3 separate regions of the Homo sapiens genome follow, and regions 1 and 2 are each linked to region 3. Evidence: fine-mapped expression QTL. A gene starts in region 3. Each other region holds a variant in brackets. All regions are shown on one strand. Distances are from middle to middle. Region 1 overlaps TENM4 (teneurin transmembrane protein 4). Region 2 overlaps TENM4 (teneurin transmembrane protein 4). Region 3 holds the start of TENM4 (teneurin transmembrane protein 4).

Region 1 (8,181 bases), 290 kb before region 3:
TCTAACGAGTTAACACAACATTCCCTAAACTCTGAGAAAAACAAACAGAAAAAAGCCACTAACCAAGGGAGAAAGACTCTCCCATATCCTAAGCACTTTCTTGGTGTGAGAGATACATCCTATGCTGCATCCTCCCAGCTCCTGAGAGCAGCCCTATCCACAGACTTTCAGCTCCAGGAAGGCGAAAACTGTACCACTCTTATCAAATAATGTGACCAAGGCCACATAACTTGTAAGTTATAGAGCTAGGCTGACTGACACCATAGCCTGTGTTTTCATTCCTCTGTTATACTCCTTAGAGGCAGCCAGTCACTGGATAAAGAGTGGTGACTACCTCCAAAGGGTCAAAGATTCACACACATATGCACAAACACACACGTGTGCATGCACACACATGCATAGACGTGTGTATACAGATATGTACATGCATGCATACGTATATGCTATTTCACTCAGAAATCAGTGGGGCTGGACTCTACAGGTTCATTACACAGTCAGCTCATCTGAGTTCCCCCCTTTCTTCTGATTTGCAAAGTATTGATACAGTCCATAATACATGAATCACACAAAGGCACATATATTTGTAGGAAACTTTACAGTTTACAAAACACTCAATCTCTCATCCAACACTCACCACCAGCCTTCTGAACATATATAAATATTTGATGATTTGCAGGCCTCCCAGTCTGTGTGTTTAAGGACCTTCATTCTGGGGGGCTCTAATCCTTACCATCTAGGACCGGGGCTATGGCATCAGTGAGAGATTGGCAGGATTTGTGCAGCTTCTCGGACCCACTCTAAAATTTCCCTTTTAACTGTATATTTCCATAGCAACCCATCATCCTTGTCTGACTCTGAGAAGTAGAGTTTTAACCTCATGAATTTTCTGAGGTTGGGCTTATGTTTGCATGAGAGTTTATGAGATGTGAACACTACTGTATCCCTAATGAGTATGCCCGTTCTTTTCTCTCCTTATGAGAGTCTCTAGCACCTCCTATCTTCTCCTCTGGCTAAAGGTAAGTAGTTCTGCCATTACTTATAATCATACTAGCAACTGCCATGTTTTGAACACTTTCTATGTACCAGGTACTAGGTGCTTTATGTACATTATCTCAGTACATCCTCACGCAACCCTTTGCAACATTTATTGGCATCCTCATTTAACAAATGAGGAAACAGATGATCAGAGATGAGAAATGGCAGTCTATGGCCACATAGTCAGCAAGTGATAGGGCTTGGATTGGACCCAGATTCCATGGATTCCCAAGACCTGGCCCATTCCAGTGCCTGAGATGGTAAGAAGCAGCAACTTCTTTACTCTGAGTCAGCAAAACGATCCAAGTGGAGGTCAGAGGCATGGTAGTGACTATCTCTTCCTACCTTCCTTGTTTTCACCAAGCTCAGAATGATGAAGTGACTTTCCTGAAAACACAACAAGAGTAGAACTGGGGCTGAACCCAGGCCTGCTCTTTGGGTTTACCCTGCTTTGATTCTCATCCATATACTGGGCAAAGATCACTGGAGGTGCTCTGTCTGTATTCCAAGTGACCAGGGTGGGAGCTGCTCTTGAAACCAACTTATGAGAAATGATTGGAGGAACAAATAACAAGAAAAGATCTTGAGGAGGGACATGCTGTTTACATTCACCTATTTTAGGATGTCTAGTAGAGAAGAAAGAGACTTGGCAAGACGTGGAGTGAATTTCAAGTCCAGATTATGGGAGAGCTCTACAAAAATCCTAAGTGTGGGGAGATACCAACCTCCAAACCAGTCCCTGCAAGTTTCCAAGAACAGGCCAGGGATCTATAGAGATGCTGTTGTGGGTTTCCCAGCATCCAGGAGGGAATGGTCCGTACCTCTAAAACCCTTTTATCTCTAAGATTCCACAAGCCTTTGAAACATATAAAAATCTTGCAGGGAAGGCAAGCAGTAATCCTGCACTCTTTGTTCATTGTTCTTAGGGAAAAAAAAATCTTTATTGTAAAATAAATGAAGATAAAGTCTACCTATTAATGCATATTTAAGAGGTAGAGAAAAAAAGAACCCATAACATTAACTTAAATCATGAATACTCTCTGAAGTGTAAAAAAAATCAACTCACTTTTCTTTAAATCTTCTTAAAAGGGTCTAAGAATAGTCCTTCAAATAATCCTTGAAGTATGCAATTTTAATTTGGACACATGGTAATTTCAGTCTACCTGTTGAAAGAGACAAGAGACAAATCAGTCATTTTTGATGAGGATGCTGTTCTGATAAGCAGTAGAGAAGATTCTGGCAGCTTGGGAGGTGGGGGTGAGACGTGGGCATGGGCATTAGTAGCAGCAGTATGAGCTTTGGTCCCAAGCTGAAGTCTAGTGTTTGAACGCTCAGAGGAAAGATGCAACTAAAGTAGCTACTAGCACAGTGCCTGGCACATGGCAAATGCTCATTAAGTAGTTGATGGACAAGTAAAAGGATGGCTGAGAAAATGAGTGGGATTTATCATCAAGCTTTCATGCAGGGAGTTACTTTGTAGCCTCATCTCTTCAACTCTTAGGGAGAGAGAATCTCCAGGTACTGGGCATATAATGGAAAGCAGCACAGAGAAAGGTACCAGTGGAGTAAAGAGAGTGAGGGATTTGAGCCAGCCATAGCTATGCCCAAATCCTGGCCCCACCACTTCTGACTGCACAACTCTGGGCTGGTTTATTTACTTATATTTGCTGTTGTTCCTAAATTGGATACTTAACCCATTCATTAATTTTCAGCTCTTCTTTTTTAATATAAGCATTTAAGGTGATAAATTTCTCTCTAAGTGCTGTCTTGGCTATATTCCACAACTTTTGATATTTAATATTTCTTTGGTCATTCATTTATAATCATTTTATAATTTCTGTTATCATTTCTTTTTGATCTGAGAGTTAGTTGGAAGTATTTTTATAAATATATCTCAATATAGGTTTTTAAAAAACATCTCATCTTTCTGTTACTGAGTTCTAACTTAATTGCACTGTGGTAGGTGAATATGGTCTGTAGGATACTGACTCCTTGAAATTTACTGGATTGTATTTTACGGCCTAGGATACAGTCCACTTTCGTGAGTGTTTTATATGTGCTTAGAAAGAGTGTGCATTCTCTGGCTGTCGGGTTGATCTTGGGCTGGCTTTCTTTAAATGTTTCTGCATCTCCATTTCCTCACCTGTAATAAGGTATGTGAGCAATACACATTAGTTCCCTCACACCATTTAAAATTATACTCACTGACAAAGACACAGTGCACAAGGAAAGATCAAGGTATGCTCTTTTTTCTTTATAACAGTATCACTAACAATGCCCTACACTGATAAAGTACTTAAAAGTTTCTAAACAATGACCACGTCTGTTATTTGGTCTTAAACCTGTATAATGTCACCTAGGCAGGTAGAGGTGGGAACCCACAAAGAAAAAGGACACACACCAGTTGGTGCAGTGATTTATTCAGTCCTCAATGCCAGAACCCCAGGATCCCTCTGACTCGCCTCTGCCCCTCACTCCTCACTCCTGCTCGGTTCAGCCTTCTTATCATCTTTCAAATCCATCCTTGTTATGACCTACAATGCCTCCATCATTTCTTACCTGCTTGGTTCTCACAGATCATTAAATTCCTACTGTTTTAAAAATACAGCACAGAAAGTAAATCCTGACAAAATCCTCCTGGCAGATGTGGCTCTCAAATAAGCCTGGTGTTAGGTCTTGGGTGCCAGAACATCAGTCTTGCAGGGGAGAGTGATGTTTATGTCTATCAAAGCAGGCATGAGTTTAGAAAGGTCAAAAAACACTGTGTTGAGTTCAAATTTCTTCATCTAGCAAACAGCCCTTCCCATGACCTTGTCCCCTGTCCTGCCCCCAAGTTCCTTTTCTCCTTTTCAGAGAGATTTCCTGAAAGAGTCATCTAGACCACCACTTCCTCCACTCCCACACTCTTCACAAA[T/C]CGTTGCCTTGTGGCTTTCAGCCTCTTTCTTTAAGATCATAGGGATGTTGTCACTGCATATTCCAGACACTTCTTCTCAATCTGCAGTGGCCTCTCTGGGTCATTTGCTAGCAGGGACCCCTTCCCTCTAGAAATTCCTGCCTCCATATCAGCAACACCAGTTTCTCCTGGTTCTTCTTTCCCCCCAAGGACTTTCTCTGACTCCTTCACAAATTCTGTGGTTTGAATGGGCATTTTCATAATTTAATTAGAAGTGTTTTTTTATAAAATAATAACCATAAACTACACTTTATTAAGGGCATACCAATCACTGTGCTAAACATTATTTTATTCTACTTAATCTTCACAATAACCACACGAGGTAGACATTATTAATATTCCTATTTTACAGATGAGAAAATAGAAGCTTGGAAAAGTGACCTAATTTGCCCAGGATCACTCAGCTACTATGTGGCAGAACAGGGATTCAAACCGCAGTCCATCCAATCATAGCCTGTGCTCTCAGCCACTACATTAACTCATCCTGCCTTCCTATACCATGGCTTCTGTGACTCACCATTCTTCCACGATGTCATGGATTTCATGCTCTCATTTTGCTTCCCTCTGAAGGGAAGGCCTTTATCCATACTGTGTGCTGAGAAAATTCTGTTTATTGTTTAAAGCTCAGCTCTTCCCACAAAGCTATTAGCGAGCCAAACCAGTTTCACTGCTTCCATCTCTTTGCTGTGGCAGCTCTACAATGATATGAAACCATCCATTCATCCATCTGACCATGCATCCATCTCTCCACCCAAGAATTACACAAGTATAGTAGAAGATTGCTTATCTAGAAGTCTAAACACAAGAAGCATCCAGACAAAGGAATTGTTCCAAAGGATTTTTTATGTTGACTCTTTGAAAAAATAATCATACTATGGTCAAAATTGAAGAAAACTTGCTAGAAGTTGTGGTGTTTGGGGAAGAGATGTGCTCTGTGTGTCATGTGTTAATGACTGGTCAAGGACAGTCATCCATGGGACCTGGCCGGGGCGCTTTCCGAGGTTACTAAACTAGATCTGTCCAATTTCCCTTACCCAATCCCCACATTTTAAAATCATATTTACATATCATCCCTGGCTCAAATACCTCATTATCCCTGAAGTCTTCCCTGATTCTCCTCCCCCAACAGGCACAGATGAACCTAGACACTCCCCCTACCCCTCACAATGTATCTCTCTGTGTTCTCTCTGCTGGCACTTGGTATTTAATCATTTGTAGATAATAGTGCATTTCAAAAAGCACTTCAACATTTTCATTGCATGCTTTATCTCCACCTCCTGTCTCCTTGGAGGTAAGAGATGCATCTAATTTACCCTAGATATTTTCAGAACCAACCCCAGTGGCTGGCACACAGATGTCAATGAGTGACTGATTGATTAAAATTAGATGACATTGTCCTTGAATGGAGAAGGCCATCCAAATATCACTCAAATGCAAGCACCAAGCAGTGTATTATGCAAAGAGTACGTGCTAAATAAACATAAAATCCTTCCATCCTCTCTCCACTCCTCAAAATTGAGGACTAGAAAAGAAACGCAATGTGTCCATTGAGCCTGAGGTTTCTGAAGATCTGTGTTCCATGGTTCACAAATATTAATATGTTGGTGTGGTGGCTTTTGATATTCTCCATGATCAACCAGGAACTGAAAACCCATGTTTGGCTACATTCTACTTTGCTTAGTCAGAAAATGAGAGTTAGAGCTTTGAAGATAGACAAGACCTTCAAAGTGAACGGCTACAACCACTTTCTTTTACAGAGGAGAACCGGAGAGGTTCATCGTCTCCAGGTCATAGGCCAAGAAAGGTTGTGCAGATGCATTTTCCCTGTTCCCTCCTAGACTTGCAAATGAAGCCTCTAGGAAACTGAGTGCTTTCTGGATGGCTAAAAATAAACTCCCAGAAACTTCATCTAGATATATCATGGCTGTAATTTACAGCGTCTAGAACTTTAGCATGGTATAATTAGCAAATGGATTACAACAATTTATTTTTGGTTTAAAAGCTCGAATGAACACAACCTTCCAGTGGAACGGGAAAACAAGGGGCTGGGAGCCAGCTGCATTCCTCCAACCCCTTCCAATGCCACAGTGTTTGTGCTGGCTGGCAGCCCTCTACTGATGTCCAATGGATATGCAAAGAGAAGGAACTGCAATTCTGAGCTCTGGGCTCCCTGAAGCATGACTTCCTGGACATAGCCTCCCAAAATGGTCAATGTTCATCCTTTTAGTGAGCAGGAAGATGTCCAAACTCACCTTTTCAATGCACAGGAAAACCCAACGGCATTCATCAAGAGGACAGAAGAGCTGCCAACCTTAAACTGATGCAGAAGAAAGGTATACACTGAACAAAACATACCAAAGACTAATTACATGGATGTTTGTTCTTCTAAAGATTCTGGGCACATTTTTAGAATGGCTTTCCATCACTTGCCTTACTGCGGGGAAAGTTTGTTGTGATGTCTCTGAATAGGCAGTACTAAAGGATGATACCAAGATAGACACTTGTCACGAAGCTAGAAGATGACTAGACTGGGGTCAGAGAGGACCTGTGCTCAGGTTTTGGTTTGTTATGTGTGCCATGAATAACAACCAATTCAAAACCCTTTTATAAAATGTCAGTAATGAGTAACTACCTCACAAGATTGTTATGGGGATTAAATGAGAAAAATGTATGAAAAGGATTTTGTAAATGAATATTAGATGATTCTTCTTGTGTGAATACATGTCCAAAGCAGATCATTCTGATGAGGACTTTTTCTGACCAAAGCACTGTAGAACATTGCAGCAAGGGCCAGGGGCAGAGCAGCAGAAATCCTGGGAAATTTTCTTCTCATGTTTCCTTGCACGGTGTCTGGGCAGAGGCAAGTCACCCAGCAGAACAATCAGAGCTAGGAAAGATGGATCCCGACTTGGGTAAGGAGCACAAGACAACCTGTCTCCCTTCTCTCACACCCCTACCAAAACCAAGTATCTGCCCAAACACCCCTTAACCTAGAAGGTGGCATGATGGTGGCCAGGCAGTGTGGGAAACCGAAGCAGTGGTTCTTGCGGCTGAAAGAAGGGGAAGGGTAGTTTTCTGAGCATCTGCCATGTACGAGGCACAGTGCTGGGTCCTTTCACACTGGGGCTCTTCTCCAAACCATGCAAGGTTCCCCTGACACCATGTTATACCATTGCTCATGCTGTGTGTGGGTCTACGAGGCCCCCTTTCTTCTCTCTGATTCTTCAACCAGCCCCTGAGCAGGAAGACTTAGACCCTCATCCTCTCACTCGTTCAATTCTTAGTGATCTTAGGTAAGGTAAGTCATCCATTTTGGAAGGACTTCAGTTTTCTGATCTGTCAGGTTAGGACAAGAACCCCAAACTCACTGCCTTACCAGATTGCTTTCAGACTCAAAAACACTGGGTGTGAAAAGTTTTAAAAACAGTGCAAAAACCTGAAGGCTTATGTCACCCCTTGTTCAAGCTCCTCAAGAGCTTCCTCTTGCTGCTTGTGCTAGTTGGCTTTTGTGTTGCTATAAAGGAATACCTGATGTTGGGTAATTAAAAAAAAAGAGGTTTAATTGGCTCATGGTTCTGCAGGCTGTACAGGAAGCATAGTGTTGGCATCTGCTTCTGGTGAGGGCCTCAGGAAGCTTCCAATCATCGGGGAAGGAGAAAGGGAGCCAGCACATCACATGGCAAGAGAGGGAGTGAGAGAGAGAGAGGAGGTGCCATGTTCTTCTAAACAACCAGATCTCACATAAACTCATAGAGTGAGAACTCACTCATTACCATGAAGAGAGCACCAAACCATTCATGACAGATCTGTCCCCATGTCCCAAACACCTCCCACTAGGCCCACCTCCAACACTGGAGGTCACATTTCAACATGAGATTTGGAGGGAACAAAACATCCAAACCATACCACTCTTAAATAAACATTACATGTCTACTTTGTCCCCTGACCCCCTGCTGATGTTATGTTCCCATCAGGGCCCCTTGTTCCCCCAGCTCCATCCAAACCAGGCATCTTTCAGGTAATTATGCTCAAGGAGTAAGTGCCGTCCCCAAGGCTGGGAGTCCCCTCTTCCCCTTCAGCTCTCAGCTTAGCCTTACTCACTTGCAGGAGAGCTCCTTGGCCCCTCAGAGGAAGGAGTTTCCTCTACTCTACATTCTCAGAGCCCTTGTGATCACACTTACCAGAGTGATGAT
Region 2 (8,181 bases), 760 kb before region 3:
TCCCATCAATACCTAATTTATTGAGAGTTTTTAGCATGAAGGGTTGTTGAATTTTGTCAAAGGCCTTTTCTACATCTATTGAGATAATCATGTGGTTTTTGTCTTTGGCTCTGTTTATATGCTGGATTACATTTATTGATTTGCGTATATTGAACCAGCCTTGCATCCCAGGGATGAAGCCCACTTGATCATGGTGGATAAGCTTTTTGATGTGCTGCTGGATTCGGTTTGCCAGTATTTTATTGAGGATTTTTGCATCAATGTTCATCAAGGATATTGGTCTAAAATTCTCTTTTTTGGTTGTGTCTCTGCCCGGCTTTGGTATCAGAATGATGCTGGCCTCATAAAATGAGTTAGGGAGGATTCCCTCTTTTTCTATTGATTGGAATAGTTTCAGAAGGAATGGTACCAGTTCCTCCTTGTACCTCTGGTAGAATTCGGCTGTGAATCCATCTGGTCCTGGACTCTTTTTGGTTGGTAAACTATTGATTATTGCCACAATTTCAGAGCCTGTTATTGGTCTATTCAGAGATTCAACTTCTTCCTGGTTTAGTCTTGGGAGAGTGTATGTGTCGAGGAATGTATCCATTTCTTCTAGATTTTCTAGTTTATTTGCGTAGAGGTGTTTGTAGTATTCTCTGATGGTAGTTTGTATTTCTGTGGGATCGGTGGTGATATCCCCTTTATCATTTTTTATTGTGTCTATTTGATTCTTCTCTCTTTTTTTCTTTATTAGTCTTGCTAGCGGTCTATCAATTTTGTTGATCCTTTCGAAAAACCAGCTCCTGGATTCATTGATTTTTTGAAGGGTTTTTTGTGTCTCTATTTCCTTCAGTTCTGCTCTGATTTTAGTTATTTCTTGCCTTCTGCTAGCTTTTGAATGTGTTTGCTCTTGCTTTTCTAGTTCTTTTAATTGTGATGTTAGGGTGTCAATTTTGGATCTTTCCTGCTTTCTCTTGTAGGCATTTAGTGCTATAAATTTCCCTCTACACACTGCTTTGAATGCGTCCCAGAGATTCTGGTATGTGGTGTCTTTGTTCTCGTTGGTTTCAAAGAACATCTTTATTTCTGCCTTCATTTCGTTATGTACCCAGTAGTCATTCAGGAGCAGGTTGTTCAGTTTCCATGTAGTTGAGCGGCTTTGAGTGAGATTCTTAATCCTGAGTTCTAGTTTGATTGCACTGTGGTCTGAGAGATAGTTTGTTATAATTTCTGTTCTTTTACATTTGCTGAGGAGAGCTTTACTTCCAACTATGTGGTCAATTTTGGAATAGGTGTGGTGTGGTGCTGAAAAAAATGTATATTCTGTTGATTTGGGGTGGAGAGTTCTGTAGATGTCTATTAGGTCTGCTTGGTGCAGAGCTGAGTTCAATTCCTGGGTATCCTTGTTGACTTTCTGTCTCGTTGATCTGTCTAATGTTGACAGTGGGGTGTTAAAGTCTCCCATTATTAATGTGTGGGAGTCTAAGTCTCTTTGTAGGTCACTGAGGACTTGCTTTATGAATCTGGGTGCTCCTGTATTGGGTGCATAAATATTTAGGATAGTTAGCTCCTCTTGTTGAATTGATCCCTTTACCATTATGTAATGGCCTTCTTTGTCTCTTTTGATCTTTGTTGGTTTAAAGTCTGTTTTATCAGAGACTAGGATTGCAACCCCTGCCTTTTTTTGTTTTCCATTGGCTTGGTAGATCTTCCTCCATCCTTTTATTTTGAGCCTATGTGTGTCTCTGCACGTGAGATGGATTTCCTGAATACAGCACACTGATGGGTCTTGACTCTTTATCCAACTTGCCAGTCTGTGTCTTTTAATTGCAGAATTTAGTCCATTTATATTTAAAGTTAATATTGTTATGTGTGAATTTGATCCTGTCATTATGATGTTAGCTGGCGATTTTGCTCGTTAGTTGATGCAGTTTCTTCCTAGTCTCGATGGTCTTTACATTTTGGCATGATTTTGCAGCGGCTGGTACCGGTTGTTCCTTTCCATGTTTACCGCTTCCTTCAGGAGCTCTTTTAGGGCAGGCCTGGTGGTGACAAAATCTCTCAGCATTTGCTTGTCTATAAAGTATTTTATTTCTCCTTCACTTATGAAGCTTAGTTTGGCTGGATATGAAATTCTGGGTTGAAAATTCTTTTCTTTAAGAATGTTGAATATTGGCCCCCACTCTCTTCTGGCTTGTAGGGTTTCTGCCGAGAGATCCGCTGTTAGTCTGATGGGCTTTCCTTTGAGGGTAACCCGACCTTTCTCTCTGGCTGCCCTTAACATTTTTTCCTTCATTTCAACTTTGGTGAATCTGACAATTATGTGTCTTGGAGTTGCTCTTCTCGAGGAGTATCTTTGTGGCGTTCTCTGTATTTCCTGAATCTGAACGTTGGCCTGCCTTGCTAGATTGGGGAAGTTCTCCTGGATAATATCCTGCAGAGTGTTTTCCAACTTGGTTCCATTCTCCACATCACTTTCAGGTACACCAATCAGACGTAGATTTGGTCTTTTCACATAGTCCCATATTTCTTGGAGGCTTTGCTCATTTCTTTTTATTCTTTTTTCTCTAAACTTCCCTTCTCGCTTCATTTCATTCATTTCATCTTCCATTGCTGATACCCTTTCTTCCAGTTGATCGCATCGGCTCCTGAGGCTTCTGCATTCTTCACGTAGTTCTCGAGCCTTGGTTTTCAGCTCCATCAGCTCCTTTAAGCACTTCTCTGTATTGGTTATTCTAGTTATACATTCTTCTAAATTTTTTTCAAAGTTTTCAACTTCTTTGCCTTTGGTTTGAATGTCCTCCCGTAGCTCAGAGTAATTTGATCGTCTGAAGCCTTCTTCTCTCAGCTCGTCAAAATCATTCTCCATCCAGCTTTGTTCTGTTGCTGGTGAGGAACTGCGTTCCTTTGGAGGAGGAGAGGCGCTCTGCGTTTTAGAGTTTCCAGTTTTTCTGTTCTGTTTTTTCCCCATCTTTGTGGTTTTATCTACTTTTGGTCTTTGATGATGGTGATGTACAGATGGGTTTTCGGTGTAGACGTCCTTTCTGGTTGTTAGTTTTCCTTCTAACAGACAGGACCCTCAGCTGCAGGTCTGTTGGAATACCCTGCCGTGTGAGGTGTCAGTGTGCCCCTGCTGGGGGGTGCCTCCCAGTTAGGCTGCTCGGGGGTCAGGGGTCAGGGACCCACTTGAGGAGGCAGTCTGCCCGTTCTCAGATCTCCAGCTGCGTGCTGGGAGAACCACTGCTCTCTTCAAAGCTGTCAGACAGGGACACTTAAGTCTGCAGAGGTTACTGCTGTCTTTTTGTTTGTCTGTGCCCTGCCCCCAGAGGTGGAGCCTACAGAGGCAGGCAGGCCTCCTTGAGCTGTGGTGGGCTCCACCCAGTTCGAGCTTCGCGGCTGCTTTGTTTACCTAAGCGAGCCTGGGCTATGGCGGGCGCCCCTCCCCCAGCCTCGTTGCCGCCTTGCAGTTTGATCTCAGACTGCTGTGCTAGCAATCAGCGAGATTCCGTGGGCGTAGGACCCTCTGAGCCAGGTGTGGGATATAGTCTCGTGGTGCGCCGTTTCTTAAGCCGGTCTGAAAAGCGCAATATTCGGGTGGGAGTGACCCGATTTTCCAGGTGCGTCCGTCACCCCTTTCTTTGACTCGGAAAGGGAACTCCCTGACCCCTTGCGCTTCCCAGGTGAGGCAATGCCTCGCCCTGCTTCGGCTCGCGCACGGTGCGCGCACACACTGGCCTGCGCCCACTGTCTGGCACTCCCTAGTGAGATGAACCCGGTACCTCAGATGGAAATGCAGAAATCACCCATCTTCTGCGTCGCTCACGCTGGGAGCTGTAGACCGGAGCTGTTCCTATTCGGCCATCTTGGCTCCTCCCTAGATTCTTAACTAAATGAAACTTACGGTGAAAAAAGCAAATTTCAGCTGTAAAATACACATAGAGTTTCTTTCTATAGATGAAAATACTATCTCTGGATTTGTGCTGCACTCTCCTGTCTCTGGCCCTTCCTTGGCTGTTTCCTCTGCACTGCCCCCGTCTTCAGTAAGTGCTGGCTTAAGACTCCCTCCAGGCTCTGCTAAAATGTCATCTCTTTCCAGAAGCTTCCCCTGTTCCACTGGCCAGAATGTATGACTCCCTGTCCTGTACACCCCTCAGCCTTTCTATGGGCCTCCTCAGTGGTCTTGCAGCTGAGGGGTGTGGGAGTCACTGCTCCGTTAATGAACAAATTCTCCAATATTTGAGTGCGTGCTGTGAGAGGCACTATGGCACAGAGATTAGGAGCTTGGCTTTGCAGCCAGGCTACTTCAGCTCAGGTTCCAGCTCTGTGGCTGCCTTGCTGTAAGACCTTGGCCAAATTCTTAACCTTCCATGCCTCTGGTACTTCATCAGTACACTAGGACAATAATTGTACCCTGCTTTGCAGGATGCTCTGAGGATTGAGTGAGATCATGAATATGAAGAGCTGAGAACTGTACTTGGCATATAGTGTTATGTAAATGTTAGCTGTCAC[T/C]GGTTTTATGTGCCTGGCACTGTGCTAGTCACTGTCATGTGTGTCTCTTGTCTCTCCTCTATCTCCACCATCCCATTTCTCTCTCTCTCACAAACACACATACACACAGACACACACACACACATCATGGTGAACTTCTCTAGTGCTGACCATGGTCCTGGAATAGGGCCCCTTGTCTTTAGATTGGCAGTTAAGAGAATAGGTTCTATAGAGCCTGTTTGCCTGGGTCCAAACACCCAATTAGGTGTGTGACTGGGGCAAGCTACCTAACCTCCGAGTGCTTCTCACTGCCTTCATGCAGAAAACAGAGACAATAATACTTACCTCCTAGGCATATGCGGTACTATATGAGGTACCTTATGAGGTACTGCTTAATGTAAAATGCTGAAAATATGCTTTGCAGTTAATAAGTGCTCCAAAAATGTTAGCTATCATCATCGTTAGGATTATATGTGCTCAGTAAATTTTTGCTGGATGAAACTAGTTATGTTCCAGGCTATGTCAAGAACTAAAGATAGTTATTAAGCAATAGTTTTCATGGGAAACCCTCACTGAATATTTTCTGCTAGAATGGCTTCAAACAGGCCCCCCCCACTCCCTCCTCTCTCCATCTTTCTCTCTCACACATGCAAAAATTCTAAAATCTGCCTCAAACTTGCTATGCATTATTCACTGACAATCTATATTTTTCTGCCTTTGAACAGTGAAAAAGCCTGTGTCAATTTATCCTTTAAAGCTGCTCCTTGCTGAATCCACATATGTCCATTAATGGTGACTTGGAGGGAACAGCATCTGTAGAGGCCCATCTCAGATGATCCCATTTAATGTGGGCTGTGACTTCCCAAGGCCGCTGCTCATTAGCAGCTACTTCTTATTACTTTCCACAGTTTAAACAGAAGATGAAACCGAAAGAGCTTTTCACAGAGACTCTAGTGAGGCAGCTGCAAAACTGAGCATCTGAGCCTGGTACTCAAGAAGGAAAGAGCTTGGCAGAGCTACCAAAGAGGAAAAACAGGTACCATGTTTCCTGGATTCCAAGAAGTGATTTTTCTTTTCATATTTTAATGTTTTTTTGAAATTGGAATGTGTCCACGTATGCCTTTTGAGCAGTATGACTTTTTTCCCTCTGCCTAAAAAGTTATTAAATTGATGAATACATTTAAAAACTGAGGAATGTGGCACTTTCAAATTTTAAAAAGTTGCCCAAATATAAGAAAGCCCACATGAACCTTTGAGAAAAATACTCACAGCCAGTTTAGCAGTATGGAATGGATGGATAATTCTTAATCACAGGGAACAAGACAGGCCTGAAGGACAAGATGTCTGAGTAATTGGTGGTCCTGCAGTCCTTGGTCAGGCAAGATCTTGGCTGCCTCAGAAATTGTACCTTCTCTTGGCAATAATCCAGTCAGAGCATAAATCCCTGGGGTCTGTCCCAACCCACTTGTGATATTATGATTATATATCCACAGTTCCCAGCTCATAACTCCTATACCCCTTCTCATAGTCTTTGGTTCTAATGTTGAGGCACTTCAGGACTCAGAAGCAGGCCTTAGGAAACAATCTCTCTGCCTCTCTCTCTGACCTTCTCCTGCCCTCCTCTCCAAGGCAGGACTCTAATCTGACTGTGGGTCATAAGACGTACTTTCAGAGGGGATCCTGCTCCATACCCTGGAGGAAGGAATGAGTGCTGCACAGAGAGGCCAAGAAGAATCTGAAGAGACAGGCCTTGCTGGGTCCGATCACATTTCTACATGGTTGTCAATCATGCCTATCCAATGAAGGCTTCCTAAAAGGCCCAAGAAGACAGAGTTTGGGGAGCTGAACATACGGAGGTCCATGGAGGGGTGAAGGTGATGTGCCTGGGGAGGGTGTGAAAGCCCCACGCCCCTTACCCTATATCTTGTCATATACATCTCTTCGTCTATACCCTTGGTAATGTCCTTTATGATCAACTGGTAAATGTAAGTATTTCTCTAGTCCTGTGAGCTGTTCCAGTAAATTAACTGAACCCAAAGAAGCAGTCATGAAAATCTCAACTAGAAGCCAGTCAGATAGAAGTTCCAGAGGCCCAGACTTGTGACTGGTGTCTGAAGTATGATAGATGGGGTGGGGTTGGGGGGGCAGTTTTGGGGACTGAGCCCTCAACCGGTGGGATTTGAGGCCATCTCCAGGTAGATAGTGTTGGAATTGAGTTGAAGGACACCCAGCTGGTGTCCACTGCAGAGTTGATTGCTTGCTTCATGGTGGGGAGAACCCCACCTCTGCCTATATTTGGTCACAGAAGTCTTCTGTTGATGACTATTGTGTGAGAACAGACGAAACACTGAGTTTTCCTCAAAAACCACGGTTAAAGGTGCTTGGTGAAGAAGGAATTCCAGCGTGTGGTTTCTCTTTCTTTGAGAACCTTTATTGTTCTTGGAGCTCTTTGAAAGGCAAAGGACTAAATTTGGGAGTAAAAGTGGTTGTAAGAATATACAGACATTTATTTTCTCATGGTAAGTTAAACTGCTTGCTAATTAATTAATTACTTAAGGAATCCAATAGTATTGCTTATTGAGCAATAGTATGTGCTTGGCTCATGCTAGTCACTACACTGTCTAAAGAGATCGACTGAGCAGCCCTGTGGGGCAGGTGTTAAAATTCAGCCCCCTTTCCCAGACCCAGAGACCAAGGCTCAGAGAAGAAGAGTGACCCCAGCCAGTTCACACAGGTGGGAACTGGCATGATGGGCACAGGGCCCCAAATCGCCCACCCAGAACCCCTGCTCTTCTCACTGCTCCACCCCATTCCACACAGCTTCAGCTTGCTTTCTTTTCCTGGAGAAGAAACCAAGGGTCACGGTGGGTGATGTGGTGGCAGAGTCAGAACTAGAACTTGGGCTTCTGACTCTTACCCTGAGGCTCCTTTCACTGCTTCGTGTGAAAGCCTTTGGAGGTACAAAGAGCCATCCAGCGGGCAGGAAAGAATCAGGCAGAGCTTTCCCTGGTGATGGCTTCTTTCTTTTCAAGTTTACTAAATCCCACAAAGCTGCAAGCCCACCTGGGTCACCACATCCCATGAGAACAATTGAGGCAGATAATTAACAGCAAGATTTCATCATTGTGAAATCTTTTTACTTGAAGCTAAAAGACCAACCCGTAACAGGATGATTTGACAAATGCAAAGAAGGGTCTCTTTTCTATGAAATCCTAGAAGAGGCACAAACCTTCTCACCTGGGCTTCAGGAAGGACTTCTCCATAATCAAATCCCTTTCATAATTATGCGTAATTATTTTTGTCCTTTGTCCTCACCTACACCAGTGTGAGTGTGTCTGTTAATCTGGGAGTCATTAGGATGGCAGAATAGCGAGGTCACCTGGATTAGCAGCTAATGAATTCCCTACCCTTTGTTCTGATAACAGGATAGGACAATAAAATATTATTCTTAAGCTTCTGAGAGGGAATTTACTTGACTCAGGCTGGTATATTTTGCAAATTAGGTGATAATACAGAGAGTTGCAATGCTTTCCTGTTCTTGGGCAGCTCCAGCAGCAGCCTATTTCTTGTGCCATCCTCCTCCAAAGGGGTCTTCCCACCCCTCTGCCTCAAAGTCCCCTGGCCCCCACCTGACTTACCTTGCAGCAGTGTGTAGAAGGCGCCTGAGGCAGACAGGTTGGTGGTTATGGTGACATCATCCTTGCTGGAGGT
Region 3 (8,181 bases):
CTAACAAAACTGGAAATGACTTTCCTAAGAAAAGAAAAGAAATTTTCATTTCACGCATTTGAAGCTGGTTTTAAATAGGCTGGATGCAAGGTTGGTGGTTCTTTCGGGGCTGTTGATTTCTCTGCCCAATCTCCACCCAACAAATGCAGGATGCTTCCTGGAAGGGGATAAGGAGGTAGAAAGGAACAAGCATCTGTGAAGGGACCACAGTATGCCAGAGGCCTTATCGATGTTAAAACTGACAGTGTTCAATAATATGAAAGATTTAAAAAGATGAGGAAATGTTCTAGGTTAAAAGAGTTTAAAGAGACATGAAAAGCTGAATGAACTCATAAGCCAGGATTTTCTATTGCTATAACGGACGTTATTGGGACAATTGGAAAAATCTGAATAAAGTTTATAGACTGGATCATAAAAAAAAACCCTGACAGTGTTGCAAACTAAGTAATATTGTGCCATTTTACAGGGGAGAGGACTGAAGCTCCAAAGACAATTTGCCTAAGGCCACAGAGCCATGATTCCAACCCAATAGTTAAGAGATTAAAGTCACATCCTATCACCTTACTCCCACAAAACCACAAAAGATTGAGGAGACTATACCAAATAGAATCAGATTCTATTGGAAGAGAGTCCGTGGGAACCCATTACTCTAACACCTAGCCTTCTACCTCATATTCCAGGTCACTCCACTCACTATAGAACTATCCTTTGATGGTTCTTGTTCAGACCAAGCACTAGTTCTGCCCGTTGGCATCCGCACTGGTCAAGGCCGGTCTATTAGGGTGGCTGATCCGCTTACCGCACCACTCTACCTCCACCCCCAAACAGAGGCCTTGATGAAAACAAGATGAGAGCAGAGGAAGAACCCAAGAACTCTTTCTAGAAAACCAAAGCTCTCCGTCCCTGATCCCTTCCCCCACCACAGAAGATGGCAATTCCACAAGCCTTCCGCACCCTGCCCTCCCCTCAGTTCAAGACACATGCTGGAAATAAAAGCTTCCCCGAATTAGCCCCCTAAAAGCACACAAACATCTATGCCCTAAGTCCTGGCTGAATATCTTGAGGACTTTCAGTTCCCCAAACATTTCCAAGGACCTACGGCACACAGGTGCCGCTAAAGGAGACACCCGTTCACTCCAGGCAATCAGCTCCAACAGGTCCAGTTCCACTAAGTGGAAGGGCTTCCCGTCAACACCCTCACCGGAGAAAACGGATTCCTCCTCAGCATTCCCTTATAACACCTGGAAAGGGGAAACCTGTTTTTTGTGCTATGTGTGACTTCGCTGCAAATCTCTCTGCTCCCCAACACATGCACACACACACACACAGGCGCGCAGAAAACTAGTTCCCACTGTCACCACCAGTGAAAACACCCCTCGTAACTTTGACGAGAAGGGCTCCCCCGCTGAAAGCCCAACTGCAGAGCGCCCGGAGCGCGCTGTGAGTCCGCAGGAACGCGGCCGGGCCGGGGACGGGAGAAAGGCGCGGCCGGGACCCTGCACTGTGCCGCGCGGCGCTTGCGGCTGGAACTTGGCCTGGAACGCGGTCTTCTCGGCTCCAGTTTCCCGCCCAGGCCCCGCCCACCCGGCCGCCCCGCTGGTTCGCACCGCTGCTCCGGCCACCGAGGAGCCCAAAGTTGGCGGCGTCCCGCGGACTCCGGCGGAGAGCGCGAGGGAGTCGCGGCCGACTCCTGTACCACGAAGACAACTGGAGGCCGGCGGGGGAGGCGGGCCACGAGGGGCTGGGGCGAGGGAGCTGGGATGCGCGGGCCCGGCTCGCCGGGAAACAGGTTGCCGCGGAGTCCCGTCCCCTCCCCCTCTGCGGTCCCCGCCGCGACCTGATTCCCGCCCTGCCCGGGGAGCTAACCCAGCCGCCTCCGGGGCGCCCTCCTTCTTCCTGGATTCCCACGGCTGGACCAGAGCCCCTCTGGCAGCCGGGTTAAAGGCTCCTTCAGCAAGGTCAAGGCGCGGCCGGCTGGCACCTGGGGATTTTTTTCCAGCCGAGCACTGGCTTTTCAATCGCATTGTTAAGGATCATGGCAGCGGCAGGAAATCCGAAGGGCCCCACAGGTCTGCGGGAGGGAGGATTTATTTTACAGCAAGGAACAGATTCAGACAGATCGGGGATTTCAGTGGGAGGGGACGAGAGGTTTCAGGACGCTGGAATGTGGCAAAAACAAAACACTCCCCACCCATGCACATCACCATCTCCTGACTGCGGGCTGGGGGGAAGGGAGTTCAGGGCCAATGTGTCCCAGACTTCAGCGTTCCCCACGGCTGTGTCAGGGCTGGGGTGGCTTATCCCCCTACAGACGAAAATCAAGATTTAAAAGCATACTCTTACTGTGGTTTCTCTATCAAAGCCCATCAACGTGATACACAGGCTGCGGCGCTGGAGGGAAGCGGCGAAACGGGGAGAATAAACGCAACAGAAGCAAACTGCTGTCTGCAGAGGCGAGAGGCGAAGGAACGGAAGCCATACCCGACCCCAGCCCCATCCCGTCCCCATCAGCGCCGGGCTAGCGCAGGAAACCAGGAATAGGTGTAGGTAAGGGTGGCAGCCCGGCAGAGCCAGCGTTCTACTCCCTCTAACCCCTCGCCAGCGTGGGCCTGGATGGCTGGGCTGCCTGGGCATCTCCAAGGGGGACCAGGCACCGCGGGCAGGTTTCTAAACACGTGAAGGGCACAGGGCTTGAAAGACAAGGAGGGGCGCCCAGGAAGGGCGGAAAAGAGGGGCTTTGGGGCTCCCCAGGACACCAAGTCAGTTTCTGAAAACGGCGTTCCCTGGAAGGCCTTCCAACACCTCCGAGGGAAGACTTGGAGCTCTGAAGACCCAATGAAACCTCAGTTCTGACTGACTCCTCCTCTGCGATCAATTCCGGATGCCCCCACTTAGTCCCTGCCTCGGTAACCGGTTCTTTGGGGACAGCAGCATCAGCACCCGACGCCCATCGCACAAGTGGGCGCCGTGGTGCGAGGCGTATCCTAGCTACCCAGGCCGGGGTGGGGGCGCCCCGGTACTTACACTCCCCAAGCAGGCAAACTTTCAGGCTTGTCTTTCGAGAACCGGGAGCTCGCATCACAGTTCCGGGTAATCACCGAGGCAGCTTATGTAATTGCCCGCGATGCCGCTCAGCAGATCTCTCTCCTTACTCGGCCTCAGAGCTCAGTACATGGGCACCCTCTTCCCCCCACCCCCCACCCCGGCGATTGGAATCCCGAGCTTGCCCCACCACCGCCTTCTACAAAGCAGCGGGGTGATCTCGTGTGCTACAAACACCAAGCCAGTATGCAGGTTCAGGCAAAACTCTGGCTGCCTCCCTGCGCCCCTTTCACTGCGTCGATGGTTTACAGATAACTGCATTTCTATAAACCCTCTCTCCACGGTTAGGGGGTGGGAGGGAGTTAGAGATCGGGTGGGGGCTTGGCGCGGTACTGTTGAGGGCTCTGCACCCAACTGAGCAGTAATACACTCATCCACATGGACGCGGGTGCATAAATCGCCTTAACATTTTGCCCTGAAAGCGGAGCCAATTTCCAAAGTTAAGGACCACGCAGCTGAATTTCCAGTACTTTCCAACCTCGCCTAGGCGGGGGCAGGCAGAGAAGGGGCGGGCAGCGGGCAGCTAACTCGCCCGACCCCCCCGCCAAGAAGGACTCACTAGGTGAACCCCCCGCCCTTCACCCAAGTAGTTGGTTGTGTATTCCTCGGTTGCGTGTGTGTGTCCACACACACACACACACACACACACACACGCCGCCCCACTACCTTCCAGTCTGCTCCTCCAATGTAACGACCGCATTTAAAAATGGCAATTAAAATGACTGAGGAGCTCGGTGATCACATTTCAACCCAGAGCACATTTCCCGAAGCTGGGGGTGAGAGTAGTCATACAGTCACACTCACACCCGGGAGCCCTCCAAGCGTCCATCTGGCGGCTGCAGCCTCAGTTGGCTCCTAGACGAACATCAATACCGCGGCCGGGCGCCCGGTGAGGAGAGGCGGGCGCCCCGCGGGTTGCAGAGGGCGAGGAGCTGGGGTCGCATCTCCAGGATCTGAGCTCCAACCACCGCCCGTGCGGGGCTGCTGCAGCCGGCACTTGCCCCGCAGGGCAGGCTGCAGCCGCTGAAGCCCGGCGCCGCCTCGCGGGCTCCTCCAGCGCCCGACGGGGGCCTGGGGCGAGCTAGTCTGCAGAGGGGCTGCAGGCGACCGGGCCGGGGCGGGGAACGGGATCCGGGAGAGGCAGACGAACCTGGGGCGCGCCGCCTCCCTCCCACCCGCTTCCCACCTCCCTGCCCTCCCCCAACCCTTGCTCCCAGGCTCCAGTCCGCGGCGGGCTCCGGGGGCTGCGGCGGCTCCAGGCTCCAGAACAGCTTGCCTCTTCGGCCACCCGCGCCCTAGCCTCCCTCCTCCTGGGCCAGGGGAGCAAGCAAACATCTCCCGGAGCCCTCGGCAGCCGCGTGAGCTACCCGAACCCTGCCCGGGCCAGCAGTGCAGAGGGCGATGGAGCTGGCGAGGCGTCGCCGCGGTCCCCAAGGCGCTTTTCCGTAGAGCGGATCACGCCGCCTTACCGTGGCTGCAGGCTGCTACCGCCGGGGAAGCGGCGAGGACGGCGGCAGGGAGGCAAGGCGCCGCGCCGGTGGCTCCTCTCTCTCTCGGCGGCGCGGCTCCTCTGCTCCGCGAGCCGTAGCGGGGCGCCCAGGAAGGAGCAGGTCCGGGCTCTGCGCTCAGCTCCAGCGAGACCAACAATAGCTCCCGCGGGGAGCGGAGCCCCAGCGAGCCTCCAGCCGCGCGCGCACGACCGGCTCCCGCTCCCGGCCGCTCCCGGCCGGCGTCCCTGCCAGCACTGCTGCCCCACATGAAACAGCTGCAATCCCGAGGCTTCTGGGGGGTTGGGGCGGGTGTGTGCGCGCGCGTGTGTGAGTGTGTGTGTGTGTGTGTGTGTTTAATAGCTTCCCTTCTCTTCTTCCCCTCCCTGCCTGCTCGCCTGCCTGCCTCCGTCCCCCACCCTCGCTCTCTTACACACAGAAAGAGAGGGCGAGCGAGAGAGAGACACACACACACACGCACACGCACACGCAGGTTACATGAATGGGAGGCGGTAGCCAATCCTACGAGGCCGGCGAGCCGCGCGGCGCACTGGCGCTGGGAGCAGGGCCGCACTCCGGCGCGGGGGGGCGCCACGCAGGTGATGGGCGCCTCTCCGGGGGCCACGCGCGGCCGCTCCCTCACCCCAGTCTCGGTTCCTCTGTCTCCTTCCCCCTTCCTCTCCGCCGCCTTCTCCATCTTCTCTCCTTTTACCTCCTTTGCTTTCTCGAGTTCTCCGAGCTCTCTCAGTTCGGTATCTTTCTGGTCTCTTTCTTCTTTTACCCTCCTTGCTTGCTTTCTCTTCCCCTTTCTGAAACTTTCTCTTTTCCTTTCTGGACTTTCTTGTACTTCCTCTCCTCTTGCCTTTTGTTCTTTCCTCCTCCTTTGGCTTTCTCTCCAGGCTCCCCGTAGCACGGTCTCGTCCCCTCTCCCTCCTCTTCGCCTTTCCCTGGGTCTCTCTGGCGCCCAGGGCCTCCCTTCTGCCTGCTCGCTGGATGTTACTCCACACCCCCCACCCCAACACTTTTCTAGGGACGGTCTCTTTCAAGTTGCTACTGCAGCACAATCAGAGTAATTAAGAGCTGAGATCTTGAGTTCCTTCTTCAGGCATGCAAGATGCCCAAAGAAAGGCCCTCCTTCCTCGGACAACTTCCCCAAAACCATGGTAACAGCTACTGAGTCGTGATAACAATCACTTAAAAAATAGCAGTGATTGCGGTCCAAGAGATTTCTGTCCCTCGAATGTTTGGATCGTGATGGCAAGCACATTTCCAAGAGAAGGGCATTTTTATGTGATGAGAGCGGTAGTTTGACTGAGTGGCAACTTGGAAGGGCTTTGGGGAAGAGACTGGAGGAATTCCCACTCCAGCCCTGCTGCCTGCTGGCTAAAGGACTTAGTGCGAGCCATTTCCCCTTACCCGGCTTCAGTTTTCTCATCTATAAAATGGATGATACCGACTTCACCAGTTTTGGTGAGGATTAAAAGAGAGAACAATGGAAAGAAAGCACTGGGTGTATATGAGATGCTTAATTTATGTTAGTTTCCTTCTTTAAGACAACTTCCTTCATGATCTTCTGCTACAGTGTGTCTCTCTGATCTAAAGTAGTCAATGAAGGAGGAAATGTGACAATGCTAATTTCACATAAATGTGAAAGGAGGGGTAGGCTATTTTGAAAACTCTTCTGTGTGGTGAGGAGACTGTCTAGCCAGTTGCCATATGCTGATTATAAAGGCATCACAGATTATAAACGTGGGGTGCTGGAATGCCCCTTCAACATCTCATAACTAGGGCATCTCAGAAAGGCAGGGATGGGTTGGGGTGGGTGGGAAGTTTCCACACAATCTGTCCAATCTATTTTTAAAATCTTTATGATAAGTGTACAGTGACCAGTGACAAAGCCTCTGAGATTAACTAAAATGTCAAGTCTCTGCCTTTGAATAGCATTTATCAACTTTGTGTCCTCACTGCAGACATCAAATGCTGGGCATCAGCTGTGATTGGCAGTTAGATTTAGTCCTTCAACAAATATTTCTTGACCACCTACTTTGTGGCAGGTGCTGTGATAGGTCTCGGCATTCAGTGGTGAGACAAACAGGCCCTGTTTTCTGAGCTTACAGTTCAGTAGGCATGTTTCATGAATGTACACTGAGAAAATGAGACACATGTACCTGAAGGAGTAACATTGGTTTGGTGGACAAATTCTTTCATTACAGAAGATCCAAGACAGGGAGTATAAGAAAGGGATCTTTGAGAGTGATAATTTTGCAAATCACTTTCAGTCTATGCATTTCATTTGACCAGTGAGAAAAATGAGACCCAGATGCTAAAAGTAGTGGGTGAAAGTATGTTGAGAAACAAAAAATATATATAGGTTCAAAGTATCTGCCCACATGATACTGATTAATTTCAAAGGGGAAAATAGTAACTTTTCAATAGAAAACCTGAAAGACTCCACCTTGAGTGATTAAAATCAGTATTAGCAGGAATGTGACAAATAGACATCAAGTGGCCCCTGATATAGTGCACTGGGAAGGACATATCACTTCTGTGATATTCCTGGTAGACATGAATAACCTGAATCTAATCATGAGGGATGCCCAATGGAATTGTTGGGAGTAAGGGAAGACTTCCCATAGGAGATGACAGGTTCTCACTCTGTCATCCAGGCTGGAGTGCAGTGGTGCCATCTTGGTTCACTGAAGCCTCAACCTCCTGAGCTCAGGTGATCCTCCCACCTCAGCCTCTTGAGTAGCTGGGACCACAGGCATGTGCCACCACACCACGCCAAACTAATTTTATTTGTTTGTTTGTTTGTTTTACAGATGAGGTCTCACTATGTTGCCCAGGCTGGTCTCAAATACCATCAATCCTCTGCCCTAGGCTTCCCAGAGTGCTGGGATTATAGGTGTGAGCTACCATACCTGGCCTTGAGCTGAGTTTTGAAGGCAAGGAATTAGCTAGACCGTGAAAGGAGGGGAGATGCTTTTTAGGTACAGGCAATAGTATGATGACATGGACAAAAGCATGAGACACTCATAGCAGAGTTGGACATATTGGGGGAGGGTCTTGGAGGAGTCTAGATGAGTCCCTAGCATCTAGGATTGGATTTTGACAGGGCCTGAAGGAGGCTAAGGATCCAAACATCCTGAAAGTTCAGGTACTGGGGCAGAAGGAGGGTAGACAGTTAATAAAGGCTTTTAAGAAGAGGAAGGATGTGATCTTGAGTGTGTTTTCAAAAGATGATTTGGCAGCAGTGTAGAGAAATGGATTAACTGGGGTGACTTAGGAAGAGTAGAGGCAGGAAAAAGTAGGTCATTTAGGGAAACTAAGGCAGTTGCAATGAAGCCAGAAAAGGGAGGAGAGATTTGAGAGAGATTGAGGATGATTTTGATTTCTGATTGGATGGGGGTAGCAAGGAGAAGCCCAAAGTGACACTCAGTTTTCAAGCTTGGGTATCTCAATAGAAGGTGGTACTACTCATTGCGATGTCAAGAGTATTCAGGAGGAAGTAGAATTCAGGGAGCATTTTAGAGGGGGGAAAAAAGGTCAGTTGCTACCATGTTATAATCTAACTCTATAGCTAACCGGAGAT

Evidence for each region. PIP is the estimated chance that this variant, and not a neighbour inherited with it, causes the effect.
Region 1: its variant is the best candidate, but not a certain one, in a credible set for the expression of TENM4 in monocytes (BLUEPRINT, PIP 0.83).
Region 2: its variant is the best candidate, but not a certain one, in a credible set for the expression of TENM4 in coronary artery (GTEx, PIP 0.53).

What each region holds. Positions count from the first base shown.
Region 1 is chr11:79,146,609-79,154,789 of GRCh38, forward strand. It overlaps TENM4 (teneurin transmembrane protein 4), which reads right to left. Exons shown (of 34, transcript NM_001098816.3): 4 at 2,102-2,198. Among named protein-coding and RNA genes, the nearest start is that of TENM4-AS1, 57 kb to the left of the region's middle. The variant T/C (reference allele first, on the strand shown) is at 3,950.
Region 2 is chr11:78,679,946-78,688,126 of GRCh38, forward strand. TENM4 (teneurin transmembrane protein 4) reads right to left here. Exons shown (of 34, transcript NM_001098816.3): 29 at 8,109-8,181. Among named protein-coding and RNA genes, the nearest start is that of NARS2, 110 kb to the left of the region's middle. The variant T/C (reference allele first, on the strand shown) is at 4,492.
Region 3 is chr11:79,435,938-79,444,118 of GRCh38, forward strand. It overlaps TENM4 (teneurin transmembrane protein 4), which reads right to left and starts at 5,093. Exons shown (of 34, transcript NM_001098816.3): 1 at 4,572-5,093. RefSeq lists silencers at 4,682-4,791, 5,052-5,221.